3 linked regions of the Homo sapiens genome follow. The protein of the gene in region 3 purifies or fractionates together with the protein of the main gene of each other region. This does not show direct contact. Each region holds a gene or a part of one and is shown on either strand. Other genes may lie near its edges.

Region 1 (2,171 bases), on a different chromosome or scaffold from region 3:
GATTCTTACTGTTTTCTGCCTAATTTGTTGCAGCACAAGCTCCGGGTGGATAAGGCAGCTGCTGCAGCAGCGGCACTACAAGCCAAATCAGATGAGAAGGCGGCGGTTGCAGGCAAGAAGCCTGTGGTAGGTAAGAAAGGAAAGAAGGCTGCTGTTGGTGTTAAGAAGCAGAAGAAGCCTCTGGTGGGAAAAAAGGCAGCAGCTACCAAGAAACCAGCCCCTGAAAAGAAGCCTGCAGAGAAGAAACCTACTACAGAGGAGAAGAAGCCTGCTGCATAAACTCTTAAATTTGATTATTCCATAAAGGTCAAATCATTTTGGACAGCTTCTTTTGAATAAAGACCTGATTATACAGGCAGTGAGAAACATGACTTGGTGTGCTCTGTAAAGCTTGGTTAGAATTTTTTTAAAGTGACATTTTGTTGGCCATAATTTAGACTGTTACATTTTATATAGTGTGGTATAAAATGGGGCATGGATTTATACTAAGTCCATGGAGTTCAGTGGAAGGGGAATGATTTAAAAAAAGTTGTGGTTTTCTAAATAATGTGGCTTGAAAAATAGGTGTAACAGGACTTGGTCAGAAACGCAGAGGCTGTTCAAGTTTAGCTCCCCACCAGATGGAAAATAGGTTAAATTCTGTAAAGATTTAACTTTAACCACAAGAGGGCACAACTGGAGAGCACAATTTTTTTGGTACTGCAGTAAAATTGATTACCTCTTGAGAAGTGTTCTTTTTAACCAGCTATAACAATAGAGTTGAGTATTTTCACCCATGGTTTGAAAAAGTGCCAGAAGGCCACACTGGCCCACATCTGTAATCCCAACACTTTGGGACCCTAAGGTGGGCAGAGCACTTGAGCCAATGAGTTCAAGACCAGCCTGGTCAACATGATGAAATCTCGTCTCTACTGAAAATATAAAAAATAGCCAGTCATGGTGCATGCCTGTAACCCCAGCTACTTGGAGGCTGAGGCAAGAGAATCACTTGAACCTGGGAGGTGGAGGTTGCAATGAGCCAAGATTGTACCATTGCCCTCCAGCCTGGGCGTCAGAGCAAGACTCTCTGAAAAGTACCAGAAGCATTTTTCAGGACTGCCTGTGTGTCTTGGTGATTATGTTAACCAACTGTGTTCAAAAGAAGTACCCATGAAATGCCTCCAGATATAAGGGTGTTTTTTTTTACCCATAAAGCTAAACTGCAAATATTACCCTAGAATTAACCTCTTGTCCTGTGTCAAAAGTCTTGTTTTGCATCTGGATTGTTAAACTGTCAGCTTCTCTCTGACAGTCTCGAACTGTCAAGACAGTCTCAGTTCACAGCCAAGGTGATCTGTTAACCCTCCCCATTTCCAGGGCCAAATCTCAGTTCTTAAGCACGTCGTTTCTTAGCACGGCTTTATTTTCATGCTCTTTATTTCTCTATTTTGTGCAGCCTTACCCCTTTAAAGTCCACTGTGAGTCCTACCCTGCAGGGCCTCTTAACACAGTAGAGTTCATGTGCTACTGATTTGGTGCCTGCCTTCAAACACATGTGCAAGTTTTGTGGGGTTAAAGATAGCCACTTGGTGGCACACCACATTGGAAGTGCTGTTCACCCGGTCATTTGAAACGGTGTTTGACCACTTGGTGCGCAAATGGCCTATCGGATTAAAGGATAGCCAAACCCAAGATTTCTTCAGGTTCTTTACAGCTCCATGGATCTAATTTCAAAATCCTGATCATTACTCATGAATCAAGGTGTTTTGACACAGGCTGTACCCCTTCCTGCAGCTCGTCCCCCGCGGAGTGGCCAGGCTACGGCGGGCGCCGGAAGGGGGCGCACTCCTCGCCTTTCCTCAATGTGTCGGGCAGCCCCGCCTCCCCGCTCGGTTTCCGGGAGTCGGCGGCGATGGCGTCATCACCGAGTGCCGGGCCGACAGCAGCCCGGAGGTTGGCTATGTGACCAGGCAACATGCTGAGCCGGCTTCAGGAACTGCGCAAGGAGGAGGAGACGCTGCTGCGGTTGAAGGCAGCCCTGCACGACCAGCTGAACCGCCTCAAGGTGACCCCGCGGCCCTCTCCTGCCCCTCCTCCATTCCTCCCGAGCGACCATTTCCCCCCAACCTGGGCCTCTGTGGTGACCACCTGCTGCGGCCAGTTCTCCGCTACTCACTAGCTGTGGTGGCGCC
Region 2 (3,495 bases), on a different chromosome or scaffold from region 3:
GAGCTTCTCCAGTCGTGTGGTGTCTTTATCTGAATACCGCCAGAGCCTACACACTTACCTGCGCTCCAAGATGAGCCAAGTAGCCCCCAGCCTGTCAGCCCTAATTGGGGAAGCGGTGCGTCACAGGGGACTCAAAAATGGGAGAATAAGGACTGTTGCCATGTGCACCTGCACTGCTGTATTTCGTGACCCACCATGTCTTCCCTAGTTGTGCTTGATGGGGAGGTGGGGAGCAGGGCTGTCGTGCAACTGGGCAGGTCAGCAGTTCATTTCTCTGACTGCTTCCTTGACTCTCTCTCCAGGTAGGTGCACGTCTCATCGCACATGCTGGCAGCCTCACCAACCTGGCCAAGTATCCAGCATCCACAGTGCAGATCCTTGGGGCTGAAAAGGCCCTGTTCAGGTACCAGTGAGGGCACCTGCCCACAATCAGGTGCCACTTCTGGTGCCCACTGCTTGTTGGGGGATCACGGTGATGGCTGACCAGGGCTCCCTGACCTATACAGGCCTCTGCTATGGGGGTGATGGCCAGTCCTGGTGTCTGAGTGATTCCCAGGGCCCAGCAAAGGGACCAAGTTTCCAGGTCAGCGACATTGGATGCCTTCCCTCTGCCTCTGGGAGCTATGGGTTGGCATGCATTGGGGTAGAGATCCAATCTGGCCTGAGGCTCACTCAGGACTTCGGGGTGAGAGGAGGGGAGGAGCTGAGCTGCCTTGGCTAATGGGGTTGAAATTTCTGATCTTAAACTCTCCACTGAATATTCTCTCAGAGCCCTGAAGACAAGGGGTAACACTCCAAAATATGGACTCATTTTCCACTCCACCTTCATTGGCCGAGCAGCTGCCAAGAACAAAGGCCGCATCTCCCGATACCTGGCAAACAAATGCAGTATTGCCTCACGAATCGATTGCTTCTCTGGTATGGGTGGGGGGGCGTTGGCAGGTGTGAGAAGGGGCTGGGTGGCTGGGTGGGGAGGCTTGCAACCATAGCTTCCACAATGATGGCAATATTTTTCGTCAACAGCAGTTCACCTAGTGAGTGTTGAGACTCTGGGTCTGAGTGAAGCTGAGGGTAGAGGGAACACAGGGTTGGGGTAGTTTCTCTCTTTGGGCTGACAGGCTTTGTCACCCACACACATCCAGAGGTGCCCACGAGTGTATTCGGGGAGAAGCTTCGAGAACAAGTTGAAGAGCGACTGTCCTTCTATGAGACTGGAGAGATACCACGAAAGAATCTGGATGTCATGAAGGAAGCAATGGTTCAGGTCAGTTGGGCTTTGCTGGGTGTGGAGTGGCATAGCTAGCTGTTGGAGGTGATGAACTGTCTGAGCCTGACCTTGTAGAATGGAGGCAAAAAAACTGATTTAATGAGCCTGATCCAATAAAGCCAGAAAGGAGTCCTCAGAGCACCAGAAGTCTTCAGGCCCTTTTAGCACTTTTCTTTGACCAGGCAGAGGAAGCGGCTGCTGAGATTACTAGGAAGCTGGAGAAACAGGAGAAGAAACGCTTAAAGAAGGAAAAGAAACGGCTGGCTGCACTTGCCCTCGCGTCTTCAGAAAACAGCAGTAGTACTCCAGAGGAGTGTGAGGTCAGTAGGCAGCACGGCCCTGGCAGAGATCCTAGGTTGTAGGATTTTCAACAGCAGAACAAAGGATATGCTGCATCAAGCTGTGGTCTTGAGTCCAGGCTTTTGGACTGAAACAAGGACCTGAAACATCTAAAACTACCTCTTGATTCTATAGGAAGGAGATAGGTGCTGAACTTGCTCAAGAGCCCAGAGAGCTGGTTGTAGCTCACACCCGTTCCCTGGGCATGTGTGTTCTGTCCTCGGCTGCCTCCCAGGAGTCCTCAACCTGGGGTAGTGTAAATTCCTGCTCTGCTTATTATCAGACGTGTGTCCGGAGGTGGTCGTGTTTCACAGTGGGGATGGGGGCAGGGAGGTCCCCAATGTGCTAAGCTACAATCATTCTCCCTGAGATTTTCATTTAGCACCCAGTTTCTTAAACAGTGTTTCAGGGCCCTGTCTGGAACTTGGCATGATGGTTCTGTTGCGACCAGCATGGTGGGTGTTTTTTAGGTTTTTTTTTTTAATGGGCTGAGGTAATTTCTCATGACATGTTTTCCTTCTAATTTGGGACAGCCTTTGGGGTGGATTTCTAAAGTTATACCCACACAATTAAACTATCCCAGAAACACTGGGCAATGTTAACGACACGCGTTCCCCTGCCTTGGCTACTTAATTGCTGAAGATGTAATGAGCACTGTTCTCACAGCCTGTTCCCCTGTCCTTCCCTTTAGGAGATGAGTGAAAAACCCAAAAAGAAGAAAAAGCAAAAGCCCCAGGAGGTTCCTCAGGAGAATGGAATGGAAGACCCATCTATCTCTTTCTCCAAACCCAAGAAAAAGAAATCTTTTTCCAAGGAGGAGTTGATGAGTAGCGATCTTGAAGAGACCGCTGGCAGCACCAGTATTCCCAAGAGGAAGAAGTCTACACCCAAGGAGGAAACAGTTAATGACCCTGAGGAGGCAGGCCACAGAAGTGGCTCCAAGAAAAAGAGGAAATTCTCCAAAGAGGAGCCGGTCAGCAGTGGGCCTGAAGAGGCGGTTGGCAAGAGCAGCTCCAAGAAGAAGAAAAAGTTCCATAAAGCATCCCAGGAAGATTAGAATGCAAATGGACATTCTCTGGGAGGTGGGGCATACCATAGCCCAAGGTGACATTTCCCACCCTGTGCCGTGTTCCCCAATAAAAACAAATTCACAAGAGTTGGTTCATGTTCTTTATTGAACACCTTACATGGGTATGGACAGGGCCTATGGGTGGGGCAAGGCAGCAATGACAGCCTCAGTGAAGTCATGGCAAGTAGCATAGCCACCCATGTCAGAGGTTCGAACCTGTGGGGGAGAATCATCATCATCCATGTGGCCTGGGCTCCATCCTAACAATCCCCATCACCACCCAACAGTCTGTCCCCTAAGGAAGCCGGCCCAAGGACAACCTAGGCTCTACCCAGCAAGGTGACCATGGTCCACTGCTTAGAGGCACAAGGTCTCTTCCCTGGTACACTGCACTGAAGGGTATGGGGAGTGTGGTCCTTGCAAGGTTGGAAGAAATAAAGGGCTCTAGCTCCCTTTAGTCTGCAGGTGACCGATGACAGACTTGATGAAGTCGGTTGTGGTGCTGTAGCCGCCCATGTCTCGAGTCCGCACCTACAGCCACCACCGGCAACAGCCGTGGGGAGGGAGAAAAGAGAGCCCATGAAGGGAGGTAGGGCAATGTGATTGAGGAAATGGAAGCCAAGAATGCGTGACAGCCAGAAAAAAGGCAATGCACAGGAATGGAAGGAGGAGCCAGGATGGGAAGCACATGGACCTGCCACTCCTCTTAAGCCACTATTAGCTGTGCTGCAGCCAGGGCAGGACAGGAGGCTGAGCAGGCAAAGATGATGGGAAACGCAGATCAGAGGCAGGATGTGGCTACCTTCCTTGGAAGAAATAG
Region 3 (3,216 bases):
GTGAGAAATGATGAGGGTCAACATTCTTCATACCAAAGTGAAGACATGAGATCCAACTCTGAGCTCACCCTGTTGCTAAATGGATAATGCCAGTACTCTCTTGTGGAAGGTATTACCAGAACAAGGGATGTAGTTCTGATCATTTTCTCCTTGATAATGTAGTTCTGGTCATTTTTTCCTTGATAGGTGATTGAAGCCTCCGATGTTGTCCTAGAGGTGTTGGATGCCAGAGATCCTCTTGGTTGCAGATGTCCTCAGGTAGAAGAGGCCATTGTCCAGAGTGGACAGAAAAAGCTGGTACTTATATTAAATAAATCAGGTGAGTAAAGAGGGTACCCTTTGTCTTCTGTGTACATGGGTGAGGTACGAGGAAACAGTCTGATAGTCACTGAAGACTGATTAGATCCAACTCTGATCTCAGCAAAGCCAGAGTACGTGCACTTTGCCAGAGACAGTGCTAGGCAGTGGGGAGCCAGGTGACTTTTACAACTGACTCAACTGGTTTCTACTATTCTTTTGCCATTCAGTATTTACCATCTTTTAAATAAAGAGTGTAAGCTGCTATACCCAGCTTATTGTGTAGTATATTTCATCTAGGAAGTGATGACAGTGTGACAAATTCCCCACACCTACACAATGTCGGGTATTAGTTCAAGAGTGAAATAAATTGGAACGTATGTGACAAAATATTTAAATGAAATGCATAATTATGCATCTGAGTTTGAGCAGCAGGAAAAAGAAAACCCAGAACAGAGAATTACAAAGCAGAAAATGGGAATGAGATCTAAAATTGTTGTTGGGGTTAAGAAACAATTGGCTGCTTGGGAGGCTGAAGTGGGCACATCACTTGAGGCCAGGAGTTCGAGAAAAGCCTGGCCAACACGGCGAAACCCCATCTCTACTAAAATACAAATATTAGCCGGGCATGATGATGGGCACTTGTAGTCCCAGCTACTCGGAAGGCTGAGGCAGGAGAATTGCTTGAACCCGGGAGGCGGAGGTTGCAGTGAGCCGATACTGTGCCACTGCACTCCAGCCTGGGCAACAACACTTCGTCTCAAAAATGAAGAAACAATTGGCTGCTAGCTAAAGGTAAATTCTGGAAACATAGCTCTAGGGTTAGTAGGGTTGTAATCCAGACGTTGAGTCTGTCCTGAAGTTTTCAAGTGAGCAATACAAGGGGAATTGAAATAGAGAAGTGCAGATGCTGAGCTCTGTTAAGATACGGGCAGTATGGTAGGGGAGCTTACCCTGCCCTGATTTTCTAGTTAAATCCTTTTGAAAGGACTGGGAAAATGTAAACCAGAGTAAAATCTATAGTTGCCAGATTTTGCAAATGCATCTCAACAAAATAGCCACATTGGAGCAAATGTCTTTTTCTTTTTTTCTTTTTGAGATGGAGGCTTGCTGTGTCACCCAGGCTGGAGTGCAGTGGCGCCATCTCAGCTCACTGCAAGCTCCACCTCCCGGGTTCACGCCGTTCTCCTGCCTCAGCCTCCCGAGTAGCTGGGACTACAGGTGCCCACCACCACGCCCAGCTAATTTTTTTGTATTTTTAGTAGAGACGGGGTTTTATCGTGTTAGCCAGGATGGTCTTGATCTCCTGAACTCGTGATCCGCCTGTCTCGGCCTCCCAAAGTGCTGGGATTACAGGCGTGAGCCACCGTGCCTGGCCGCAAATGTCTTATTTCTAATTGCTATCAGATCTGGTACCAAAGGAGAATTTGGAGAGCTGGCTAAATTATTTGAAGAAAGAATTGCCAACAGTGGTGTTCAGAGCCTCAACAAAACCAAAGGATAAAGGGAAGATAACCAAGGTATCCTTTATTAGTGGTAAGAAATGTGATTCTTTCAGATTTTGGTTGAAATATGATGAGTGTACAAAATCTTGATTTAAGTGAATGAAAAATTACAAGATCCAACTCTGATTTCAGCCAGAGATCATCTGAAAGGCAATGTAGTTATCTTAAGAGCTGGGCTCTGGAGCCTGATTGCTTGGGGTTTGTTGAAATTTATCAGGTAAGTTGCCAGAATAATTCAACTATTTGGAATTTTAGCGTGTGAAGGCAAAGAAGAATGCTGCTCCATTCAGAAGTGAAGTCTGCTTTGGGAAAGAGGGCCTTTGGAAACTTCTTGGAGGTTTTCAGGAAACTTGCAGCAAAGCCATTCGGGTTGGAGTAATTGGTGAGTTTCAGTTCATTACTTTTTACTTTTTAAGTGTTGAAATAGTTAAGAAGTTTAGCCAGCTCTCCAAGTGCCCAAGCAGCAGTGTATGGAGTTGTTGTCAAGTAAAAGGCTCACTCAAATACTAGCTTCTTGCTTATACCTTACTGAAAGCACATAACCACACACAATTTAAAGAAAAAAACTTACACAACTGCTGCCAGATTCAGGTTTTTTGTTGGGACTGATTACTGTAGGAAGCTGGTTTCTAAAAGTTCTTGGTTTGTTTGAATTTATAGTATTTTCCTGCCTTTGCATTACTTGTGCAAGAAATGAAGAAACTAAAATTGGTCTTAGTATTGAAGTGAAGACACTGAGATCCAACTCTGATCTTGCCCTAAACATCAGGGAAATGGAAAATTAGGCAGTGAAAATTTCATAAGTGCCAACATATAATGCTTTTTATATCTGGATTTCCCATTTATTTGTAGGTTTCCCAAATGTGGGGAAAAGCAGCATTATCAATAGCTTAAAACAAGAACAGATGTGTAATGTTGGTGTATCCATGGGGCTTACAAGGTAAATGGAGGTGTCCATAATTGTAATATTATAGTGACACACTATTTTATTTTGGTTATCTCAAGGAAGGTGATTTTTTTTTTTTTTTTTTTTGAGACAGTTTCACTCTTGTTCCCAGGCTGGAGGGCAATGGCGCAATCTCGGCTCACTGCAACCTCCACCTCTCAGGTTCAAGTGATTCTCCTGCCTCAGCCTCCAGAGTAGCTGGGATTACAGGCATGTGCCCCCACGCCCGGCTAATTTTGTATTTTTAATAGAGACGGGTTTCTCCATGTTGGTTAGGCTGGTCTCAAACTCCTGACTTCAGCTGATCTGCCCGCCTCGGCCTCCCAAAGTGCTGGGGTTACAGGCCAAGCCACCGCGCCCGGCCTATTTTTATTTTTTAAAGCTTTTGGTGAAAGCAGAGATTTAAGCCAGTGCTAGAACTGATTGGAGTGGGACAGCTGCCCACAATTTAGTTTGAAAGACAAGTTC

The links.
Region 1: the proteins of GNL3 (region 3) and RPL4 purify together in Homo sapiens (affinity purification with mass spectrometry; 2 studies listed by BioGRID and IntAct, with this or other methods). This does not show direct contact.
Region 2: the proteins of GNL3 (region 3) and NOP56 purify together in Homo sapiens (affinity purification with mass spectrometry; 4 studies listed by BioGRID and IntAct, with this or other methods). This does not show direct contact.

The regions. Positions count from the first base shown.
Region 1 is NC_000015.10:66,497,515-66,499,685, reverse strand, and holds the end of RPL4 (large ribosomal subunit protein uL4), read left to right. Parts: intron 1-33; coding exon 34-279; 3' UTR 280-1,671; downstream 1,672-2,171. Other genes in the region: SNAPC5 (snRNA-activating protein complex subunit 5), read left to right, coding at 1,955-2,044. UniProt on the Homo sapiens protein: Component of the large ribosomal subunit. The ribosome is a large ribonucleoprotein complex responsible for the synthesis of proteins in the cell.
Region 2 is NC_000020.11:2,655,632-2,659,126, forward strand, and holds the end of NOP56 (nucleolar protein 56), read left to right. Parts: coding exon 1-115; intron 116-302; coding exon 303-403; exon of another isoform or gene 404-583; intron 584-769; coding exon 770-918; intron 919-992; exon of another isoform or gene 993-1,063; intron 1,064-1,142; coding exon 1,143-1,264; intron 1,265-1,307; exon of another isoform or gene 1,308-1,379; intron 1,380-1,449; coding exon 1,450-1,587; intron 1,588-1,741; exon of another isoform or gene 1,742-1,857; intron 1,858-2,297; coding exon 2,298-2,663; 3' UTR 2,664-2,762; downstream 2,763-3,495. Other genes in the region: IDH3B (isocitrate dehydrogenase [NAD] subunit beta, mitochondrial isoform e precursor), read right to left, coding at 2,878-2,891, 3,128-3,206. UniProt on the Homo sapiens protein: Involved in the early to middle stages of 60S ribosomal subunit biogenesis. Required for the biogenesis of box C/D snoRNAs such U3, U8 and U14 snoRNAs. Part of the small subunit (SSU) processome, first precursor of the small eukaryotic ribosomal subunit.
Region 3 is NC_000003.12:52,688,888-52,692,103, forward strand, and holds part of GNL3 (guanine nucleotide-binding protein-like 3), read left to right. Parts: exon of another isoform or gene 1-146; intron 147-186; coding exon 187-319; intron 320-352; exon of another isoform or gene 353-428; intron 429-1,704; coding exon 1,705-1,817; intron 1,818-1,850; exon of another isoform or gene 1,851-1,943; intron 1,944-2,057; coding exon 2,058-2,184; intron 2,185-2,490; exon of another isoform or gene 2,491-2,557; intron 2,558-2,654; coding exon 2,655-2,742; intron 2,743-3,216. UniProt on the Homo sapiens protein: May be required to maintain the proliferative capacity of stem cells. Stabilizes MDM2 by preventing its ubiquitination, and hence proteasomal degradation.